Homo sapiens: one gene and its partners. The protein of the gene in region 3 purifies or fractionates together with the protein of the main gene of each other region. This does not show direct contact. Each region holds a gene or a part of one and is shown on either strand. Other genes may lie near its edges. The genes, in order: CCNT2, FKBP5 and CDK6.

The links.
Region 1: the proteins of CDK6 (region 3) and CCNT2 purify together in Homo sapiens (affinity purification with mass spectrometry; 3 studies listed by BioGRID and IntAct, with this or other methods). This does not show direct contact.
Region 2: the proteins of CDK6 (region 3) and FKBP5 purify together in Homo sapiens (affinity purification with mass spectrometry; 2 studies listed by BioGRID and IntAct, with this or other methods). This does not show direct contact.

What each region holds. Positions count from the first base shown.
Region 1 is NC_000002.12:134,956,822-134,960,002, forward strand, and holds the end of CCNT2 (cyclin-T2), read left to right. Parts: 3' UTR 1-2,521; downstream 2,522-3,181. UniProt on the Homo sapiens protein: Regulatory subunit of the cyclin-dependent kinase pair (CDK9/cyclin T) complex, also called positive transcription elongation factor B (P-TEFB), which is proposed to facilitate the transition from abortive to production elongation by phosphorylating the CTD (carboxy-terminal domain) of the large subunit of RNA polymerase II (RNAP II).
Region 2 is NC_000006.12:35,577,256-35,580,915, forward strand, and holds part of FKBP5 (peptidyl-prolyl cis-trans isomerase FKBP5), read right to left. Parts: exon of another isoform or gene 3,302-3,660; intron 2,967-3,301; coding exon 2,781-2,966; intron 1-2,780. UniProt on the Homo sapiens protein: Immunophilin protein with PPIase and co-chaperone activities. Component of unligated steroid receptors heterocomplexes through interaction with heat-shock protein 90 (HSP90).
Region 3 is NC_000007.14:92,604,357-92,607,093, reverse strand, and holds the end of CDK6 (cyclin-dependent kinase 6), read left to right. Parts: 3' UTR 1-2,173; downstream 2,174-2,737. UniProt on the Homo sapiens protein: Serine/threonine-protein kinase involved in the control of the cell cycle and differentiation; promotes G1/S transition. Phosphorylates pRB/RB1 and NPM1.

The DNA of each region.
Region 1 (3,181 bases), on a different chromosome or scaffold from region 3:
AAAGGTAATTTTATTGAATCTTCATTGGTGCTAATGATGGACAGTTAAAAAGATAGCTAGTGTATATTGTTATGGGTCAGTACTTATTAGTACTTCCAAAATTGAATTTGAAATGCTATGTATTCACTTTTCACTCTGTAAATGTAATTCTTTACAATGACTTTATTTATTAAAGGGCAGCCAGTTGTCATTTTTACAGGATTGTGTGAGCTATTCAAACTCTTCAACCCCTGAACAGGGTATTAAGCTTCCAAAATAATGATGGGGATAAATATGGAAATCCTTTTTAAGTTGTATTTCCATTAAACAAAAACCCTTATAATTCATACTATCATGAATTTGCTTTATCCATCTCATTTGCATAACAGTTCATCTGTCTGGTCCCATTAGGCTCTACCAAAGAAAGACTCTGATGAGTGGACATTATTACTGTGACTCTTGTAAGTAGCCATAAATAAACCAAAATAGTATCAAATTTAGGTATGAAATTCCACATGTGCAAAGTACTGTTAAGGTGATAACATTTTTGATGAGATTTAAAAAAATATTTGAAATATTAAAAAGCATTATCTTTAAACATCCTATAAAAGAGTGAGTCATTTTTAAGTTGTGTTTTCCCTAGATCACTGATTTGTTACCTTTACACAGAAGCACATTGCAAAGAAAGGCTTTATTTCTACCTCTTCCATTCAGTTTTCCAATATTGAGCTGTGTCCCTCTGAATATTTGCCTTAGCTATTTCAAAATAGGTATTTTCAGAACCAAAGCAAAGGGTGGTTTGTTCACTGAAACATTCTTAGAGGCCTACTTAACGGGCGGCAGTATCCGGTAGTGGTAAAACCTCACAGTTTCCTAATTGCAGGTATGTAAATACCAAAAAAGTCCTGTTGTCAGCCCTAGGTTTATCTTTGAAAGCAGTTAAATGTGCACCTTGGTCTTCCTCCGTGTGTTCAGATTCCTTCTGGTTAAAGTTCTTATTCAGAGTCATCTAAAAGAAATTTCTAACATGATGTATGGTTTCTTGAATGTCATGAGTGGCTGCGTATATTGCTTTGTAGCAACAGATTGTATTAATAATTAATAGAATACCTAATTTTTTTGGCCTATCCTCTTTGAACTAGAAATGACTACTTGAGGGCTATTTCAGAGAACCAATATGAAATGTTTTTGTTAGTACAAAATACCATTGCCTTAAAAGGTTTCAAGCACATTTTCTTTTCTATTTGAGAACTTAAATTGCTGACTTGTATTCGTTAAGCAACCTTAGAAATAAACCACTGCTTATATCTGCATGAATATTATGCATTTCATGAGTACAGTTAGTTGATTAGATATTTCAGGGTTTTGCATTTTCTATAGACATGGGGACTTTTTTAACATGGTAACGTCTTAGGAAAACCATTCTCTCAAGGTATTACACCATTTCCAATTTTATCCAAATGAAAAGCATATCTGCTTAAATTTAGGATGTCTTTGCTGAGAATATTTGGAGGCTCTTGTTAGGAAGAATCATGGATTCAGTATTTCTAACCTGATTACTGCCTCAGAGGCTGTCTTGAAGGGAGACAGTAGGATTCACTGACTACCTTTACCCAGATGAGGGATCAACAAATCTCACACTTAAACTAAATGAGTTGACAGGACAATAGGTGCTAATCTCATGTGCCCTAAGATGGACTTATTTAGATAGGGATTTTTGCATTGGAAAAGCAGCACATTCTCTGACCTTGGGTACCAAGCTATGATACTAATTTGAGAATCACATTCTGATACGTTAATATCAGAAATCAGTGAGCAACCTAATTGCTGTAAGCTGACATACATGGAAGCCGAAATCAAAAGGTTGCTTTTGTTAGTTTCCCTGGAGCATCTATTTTTGTAATACATTTTGCCAGTGGGACTGAAAAGCTCAAAATGTTTTAGACCTAATATCATACATTAATTTTCTGCTCTGCAGTGTCAATTTGGGCACAGCCAGTTTTTACCTCTGTGGCACCTTCTTTATAATTTACTGTTACCTATTCTGCCTGACAGATTGATTAAGTAGGTTGATAAGATCCATCGAAGATTGAATGGCTAGGAGTAATTCTGTTCTCGTATAGGCAACTTAACTTCACTGTGGAATCCATTTATCTCAAAGTTTGAGGGCTGTCTACTTTATTTTCAAGTTTGGGGCGGAAACTCAAAATCCCGAGCATTGCCACTTTAGTAGTTTGTTTGATTTGCCTATTGTTTAATAATGAGTACATTCTTATTAAGTGATGAGTACATTCTTAATTTTAAGGTATGTTTTTTTCAAGCAGCTTCATTTTATTAGGAAAAATACATACTCATTTGTTGTAAACAGTGATTGTGGGGTTTCATTTTCTGAATGTACTCAAAACTCCCAACAACAATTGAACAGGATGTTTGCTAATAGAAAATCTAAAACAGGAATATGTGTATATGGCATGAATTAGTCATTGACTTTAAGCTTCTTATCCATACAAGGAACTAATAAAATGTTTATTGACAACATAAATCCAAGGCTCTAACATGTCTTAAGTTAATGTGAATCAGAAGTAACTTTGAGGTGGGGCGCAGTGGCTCATGCCTGTAATCCCAGCACTTTGGGAGGCCAAGGCAGGCGGATAACCTGAGGTCAGGAGTTCAACACAACCCTGGTCAACATGGTGAAACCCTGTCTCTACTAAAAATACAAAAATTAGCCGGGTGTGGTGGTGCATGCCTGTAATCCCAGCTACTCGGGAGGCTGAGGCAAGAGAATCGCTTGAACCCAGGAGGCAGAGGTTGCAGAGAGCCCGAGATCGCACCACTGCACTCCAGCCTGGGCGACAGAGCAAGATTCCTTAACAACAACAAAAACAGAAGTAACTTTCAGTCCCTGGAAAATGTGAGATCTCTAGTATAATTGACCCTTTATCCAAGTAATTTCATGTATCATTCAGGAGTGCAGGCTCTGGGATCAAATGGTCCATGCTCTAGTCTCAGCCCTACCATTTAATAACAGAATGGCATTGGGTGAATTACTTGATCTCATGCTTTTTCTTCCCTACAAAGTGTTAGTAGTAGTACCTGTTCATCATAGAGTTGTGTAAGGCTTGGATGGTCAAGGAAGGCTAGATAGAATAGCATTAAAGAGAATCCTAATTGAGGGGTAGATGTGGGATATTGGAATGAT
Region 2 (3,660 bases), on a different chromosome or scaffold from region 3:
TTAGAAAGGACGAATTTTAATAAATTCAGTAAACAGCTTACCAAAGTTCTCTTGCCAAAGGAGATGGAAAAAGTGTATTTAAAAAAATGGGGCTCAAGATAATTACATACTACTGATCAAAATTTACTACCCAAATTATTTTCTGCATTTAATGCAATTTCTAGAAAGATCCCAAGGAGATTTGAGAGGGGGCTCTTGAGAAGTTCATTTTAAAGTTCATTGGAACAAATAAGTGCCCAAGAATGGCTGAAAAAATTTGGGAAAAAAGAAAAAAATAAGAGGCACTTGTCTTACCAGAGAAAAAGACAAACTTTAAAACTACTGAAATTAAGACAGTTTGGTTACTAGCATGTGGACAAACAGCTCAGTGGAACAGAACGAATCATTCAGAAACAGTCATGTGTCTGCATATAAAAACATTTGAAAATGACAAAGGTGGTAATGTGAATCAGTGGAGAGTTAACTTTAAAATAAACGGGGCCAGGATGGCAGCTATCCACATAGAAAATAAGAGTTAAGGCCGGGTGCAGTGGTTCACACCCTAATCCCAGCACTTTGGGAGGCTGAGGCAGGTGATCACCTGAGGTGAGGAGTTCGAGACCAGCCTGGCCAACATGGCGAAATCCTGTCTCTACTGAAAATACAAAAATTAGCTGGGCATGGTGGCAGGCGCCTGTAATCCCAGCTACTTGGGAGGCTGAGGCAGGAGAATTGCTTGAACCAGGGAGGTGGAGGTTGGAGTGGGCTGAGATCGTGCCACTGCACTCCAGGCTGGGTGACAGAGTGAGACTCTTGTCTCCAAAAAAAAAAAAAAAAAAAAGTTCTTACCTCATATTGTAAGCACAAAAGTAAATTCTAGATCAACCATATTTACATATTAAAAAAAACCATAAAATGTTTCAATTATTTTTTATTTTAAAATATGTAAAATATAATCATTATTTTTTTGAGGCAGGGTCTCACTCTGTCGCCCAGGCTGGAGGGCAGTGGCTCAATCACAGCTCACTGCAGCCTCTATCTCCTGGGCTCAGGCAATCCTCTCGCCTCAGCCTCCGAAAGTCCTGGGGTTACAGGTCACAGGTGTAAACCACTGTGCCTGGCTTCAGTTATTTTTATAATCTTGGTGTGGGGAAGTCTTTTCTAACTAGAAAGGAGACGACAAATCTGACTACATAAACATTAAAACCTTCTTTAAAGAGAAAGATATAATCAACAAAGCTAAAAGAAAATTGCTGGGTTGTGGTGGCTCACACCTGTAATCCCAGCACTTTGGGAAGCTGAGGTGGCAAATCACCTGAGGTCAGGAATTGGAAACCAGCCGGGCCAACATGGTGAAACCCTGTCTCTACTAAAAATACAAAAATTAGCCTGGTGTGGTGGTCGGCACCTGTGGTCTAAGCTACTTGGGAGGCTGAGGCAGGAGAATCGCTTGAACTCGGGAGGTGGAGGTTAGAGTGAGCCAAGATTGTGCCATTGCACTCCAGACTGGGTAACAGAGAAAGACTCCATCTCCAAAAAAAAAAAAAAGAGGAAAATAAGGAGAACAGGCTTCCTATTGCCAAAGATAGGGTTAATAGTGATGCTATATGACTGCTTCTGTCAATAGAAGACAGAAAAATAATGTAGTCAAGGCTGTGCTGGGTGTGGTACCTCACAACTTTAATCCCAGCTCTTTGGAAGACCCCCATCTCTACAAAAGTAAATTTAAAAATTAGCAGGGTGTGGTGGCATGCACTTGTAGTCCCAGCTACTCAGGAGGCTGAGGTGGGAGGATAGCTTGGGCCCCAGAGTTTGAGGCTGTAGTACATTATGTTCATGTGTATTAATAGCCACCGCACCCCAGCCTGGGCAAAATAGCAACAACTTGTCTCTAAAACAAACAAAACACACACACGCGCGCGCGCACACACTCTCTCTCTCTCTCTCTCCGCTCTGTATGAAAAAAACGAAAAAATACATATAAAATTAATAACTGGTCTTGGGAGAGAGGATGCGATAGGAAACACTGATCCACAAAATTCAAAAATAATCTCACAAAGAATGTACAAAATAGTTGCCTTGCTTTTCTTATCCTTTTATGTCTACCTTTAAGATACATCCAATGATTAGTTTTTACTTTTACCCACAGTATAATATATACTGTTCACTCTGAGACCAGATACCTAAAATAGTATCGGCTGGTGTATAAATATATCAGAACGATACATAACGATACAGATGATAAACCACTGTTATAGAGTACTGTGTGTAAGCACTCAAAAGACCAAAGATAGTATTAATAAGACAAATGTAAAAATAAAAAGGCTGCTGATGCTCTGTGGACCTTTCATATTATTTATGCATATCAGTGAATAAATGATTATAATAAAAATTGACCTATATATATGCTTTATATGAACAGTTGCAGTCTGTTAAAGTCCAGAAAAGCTTAAGTTAAATCTTCTCTTATTAAACTGAACCTGAGGAGTTATACGTCTACTCTGATATAAATACTACAGTTATAAGGAAGGTCGTGGATAAAAATTATTTAATTTTAATCAAAACTTTTCTTCAGAATGCATTATGATAAACAGTCTAGGTATCATAAAAGTCTGACTGTAATAAAAATCTTGCTGAATTTCCCAATTCATACTGAGAAACAAATAATCCCAAACATTCAAATAAATAAAAAAAAGCAAAATGAAAAATCCTGCAACCTTTGGCTGAGAGGAAGCAAAAGACAGAGATGGAGAAAAGATCTGGAGTATCTAAAGTCCATCTCACAGGAGACACGATGTTACCTTGTCACAGCATTCAACAGCTTTGGTGTATTCTCTAAGCTTCAGGTAGCACATGGCCAGGTTCAGAAAGGCAGCAAGGAGAAATGATTCAGAAGCTTTCGATTCCTTTTCTGATAAACCATATTCCATCTCTAACCAGGACACTATCTTCCCATACTGAATCACCGCCTGCATGTATTTGCCTCCCTAGGATAAAAAAGCGTCATTACTTGTACTCAGCTCTTGAGGGGGTACAAAAGAAAAGCAAATCCTCAAAGTGAAGCAACCCCTCCAGCAAACCCTGGTACAGCTGGTTTCTTTCTTTCCTTCTGGAGATGGCTCTCCAGGTACCTTTCCCACTCCCTTGGAGGCCTCGATGGCCTGTGGGCTGGTTTGGGGCAGTGCCTGAGCACTGCCTAGTGCTGCTCTGCAGCATTTCCATCCGTCCCTTCAGCAGGTGTAGTACAGCAAGGCTTCTGGGCTATGTTCTTTGGTGCTAATATTCTTTAGTCTTTTTTTTTTTTTTTTTTTTTTTTTTTTTTGAGACACAGTCTCGCACTGTCTCCAGGGCTGGAGTGCAATGGCGCCATCTCAGCTCACTGCAACCTCCGCCTCCCGGGTTCCAGCGATTCTCCTGCCTCAGCCTCCCGAGTAGCTGGGGACTACAGGTGGCCGCCACCAAGCCCAGCTATTTTTTTTTGTATTTTTAGTAGAGACAGCGTTTCACTATGTTGGCCAGGCTGGTCTTGAACTCCTGACCTTGTGATCCGCCTGCCTTGGCCTCCCAAAGTGCTGGGATTACAGGCATGAGCCACCACACCTGGCCTATTCTTTAGTCTTTCAAAAGGATTGTGAGCAGTTTTAGACTATGCCACTAAAAAAATGAAAAGGAAGTTACTTT
Region 3 (2,737 bases):
AAGTCCAAGTTTCCATGCTTCAGGCAACTTAGCTGTGTACAGAAGCAATCCAGTGTGGTAATAAAAAGCAAGGATTGCCTGTATAATTTATTATAAAATAAAAGGGATTTTAACAACCAACAATTCCCAACACCTCAAAAGCTTGTTGCATTTTTTGGTATTTGAGGTTTTTATCTGAAGGTTAAAGGGCAAGTGTTTGGTATAGAAGAGCAGTATGTGTTAAGAAAAGAAAAATATTGGTTCACGTAGAGTGCAAATTAGAACTAGAAAGTTTTATACGATTATCATTTTGAGATGTGTTAAAGTAGGTTTTCACTGTAAAATGTATTAGTGTTTCTGCATTGCCATAGGGCCTGGTTAAAACTTTCTCTTAGGTTTCAGGAAGACTGTCACATACAGTAAGCTTTTTTCCTTCTGACTTATAATAGAAAATGTTTTGAAAGTAAAAAAAAAAAATCTAATTTGGAAATTTGACTTGTTAGTTTCTGTGTTTGAAATCATGGTTCTAGAAATGTAGAAATTGTGTATATCAGATACTCATCTAGGCTGTGTGAACCAGCCCAAGATGACCAACATCCCCACACCTCTACATCTCTGTCCCCTGTATCTCTTCCTTTCTACCACTAAAGTGTTCCCTGCTACCATCCTGGCTTGTCCACATGGTGCTCTCCATCTTCCTCCACATCATGGACCACAGGTGTGCCTGTCTAGGCCTGGCCACCACTCCCAACTTGACCTAGCCACATTCATCTAGAGATGGTTCCTGATGCTGGGCACAGACTGTGCTCATGGCACCCATTAGAAATGCCTCTAGCATCTTTGTATGCATCTTGATTTTTAAACCAAGTCATTGTACAGAGCATTCAGTTTTGGCTGTGGTACCAAGAGAAAAACTAATCAAGAATATAAACCACATTCCAGGCTGCTGTTTTCTCTCCATCTACAGGCCACACTTTTACTGTATTTCTTCATACTTGAAATTCATTCTGCTATTTTCATATCAGGGTACAGACTTATAAGGGTGCATGTTCCTTAAAGGTGCATAATTATTCTTATTCCGTTTGCTTATATTGCTACAGAATGCTCTGTTTTGGTGCTTTGAGTTCTGCAGACCCAAGAAGCAGTGTGGAAATTCACTGCCTGGGACACAGTCTTATAAGAATGTTGGCAGGTGACTTTGTATCAGATGTTGCTTCTCTTTTCTCTGTACACAGATTGAGAGTTACCACAGTGGCCTGTCGGGTCCACCCTGTGGGTGCAGCACAGCTCTCTGAAAGCAAGAACCTTCCTACCTATTCTAACGTTTTTGCCCTCTAAGAAAAATGGCCTCAGGTATGGTATAGACATAGCAAGAGGGGAAGGGCTGTCTCACTCTAGCAACCATCCCTCCATTACACACAGAAAGCCCTCTTGAAGCAAAAGAAGAAGAAAGAAAGAAAGCTTATCTCTAAGGCTACTGTCTTCAGAATGCTCTGAGCTGAATGCTCTTGCTCCTTTCCCAAGAGGCAGATGAAAATATAGCCAGTTTATCTATACCCTTCCTATCTGAGGAGGAGAATAGAAAAGTAGGGTAAATATGTAACGTAAAATATGTCATTCAAGGACCACCAAAACTTTAAGTACCCTATCATTAAAAATCTGGTTTTAAAAGTAGCTCAAGTAAGGGATGCTTTGTGACCCAGGGTTTCTGAAGTCAGATAGCCATTCTTACCTGCCCCTTACTCTGACTTATTGGGAAAGGGAGAACTGCAGTGGTGTTTCTGTTGCAGTGGCAAAGGTAACATGTCAGAAAATTCAGAGGGTTGCATACCAATAATCCTTTGGAAACTGGATGTCTTACTGGGTGCTAGAATGAAAATGTAGGTATTTATTGTCAGATGATGAAGTTCATTGTTTTTTTCAAAATTGGTGTTGAAATATCACTGTCCAATGTGTTCACTTATGTGAAAGCTAAATTGAATGAGGCAAAAAGAGCAAATAGTTTGTATATTTGTAATACCTTTTGTATTTCTTACAATAAAAATATTGGTAGCAAATAAAAATAATAAAAACAATAACTTTAAACTGCTTTCTGGAGATGAATTACTCTCCTGGCTATTTTCTTTTTTACTTTAATGTAAAATGAGTATAACTGTAGTGAGTAAAATTCATTAAATTCCAAGTTTTAGCAGAATGTGTTTTTTTTCTTTCTTTTTTTTTTTTTTTTTTTTTTTTTGGTGCTTCTTATTTGCAACCTGGCCATGTGGTAGAAAGAATGTGTTTTAAAGTTTTACTTTAAGAGATTCCTTTTCAGGCTTCTAGTGTTTAAAAAGTAAATAACAGCTAAGTGAGCTTAGAACTCATTCAACAATTGGCCGGGCACGGTGGCTCATGCCTTTAATCCCAGTACTTTGGGAGGCCGAGGCAGGCAGATCACCAGAGGTCAGGAGTTCAAGACCAGGCTGGCCAACGTGGTGAAACCCTGTGTCTACTAAAAATACATGAAAACTAGCCGGGCATGGTGGCACGCGCCTGTAATCCCAGCTACTCAGGAGACTGAGGCAGGAGAATCACTTGAACCTGGGAAGTGGAGGTTGCAGTGACCTAAGATGGCGCCACTGCACTCCTGCCTAAGCAACAGAGCAAGACTCCATCTCAAAAAAAAAAAAGAACTCATTCAACAATCATGCGTTGCTTAATGACTGAGATACAGTCTGAGAGATGCATTGTTAGGGGATTTCATCGTTGTGAGAACATC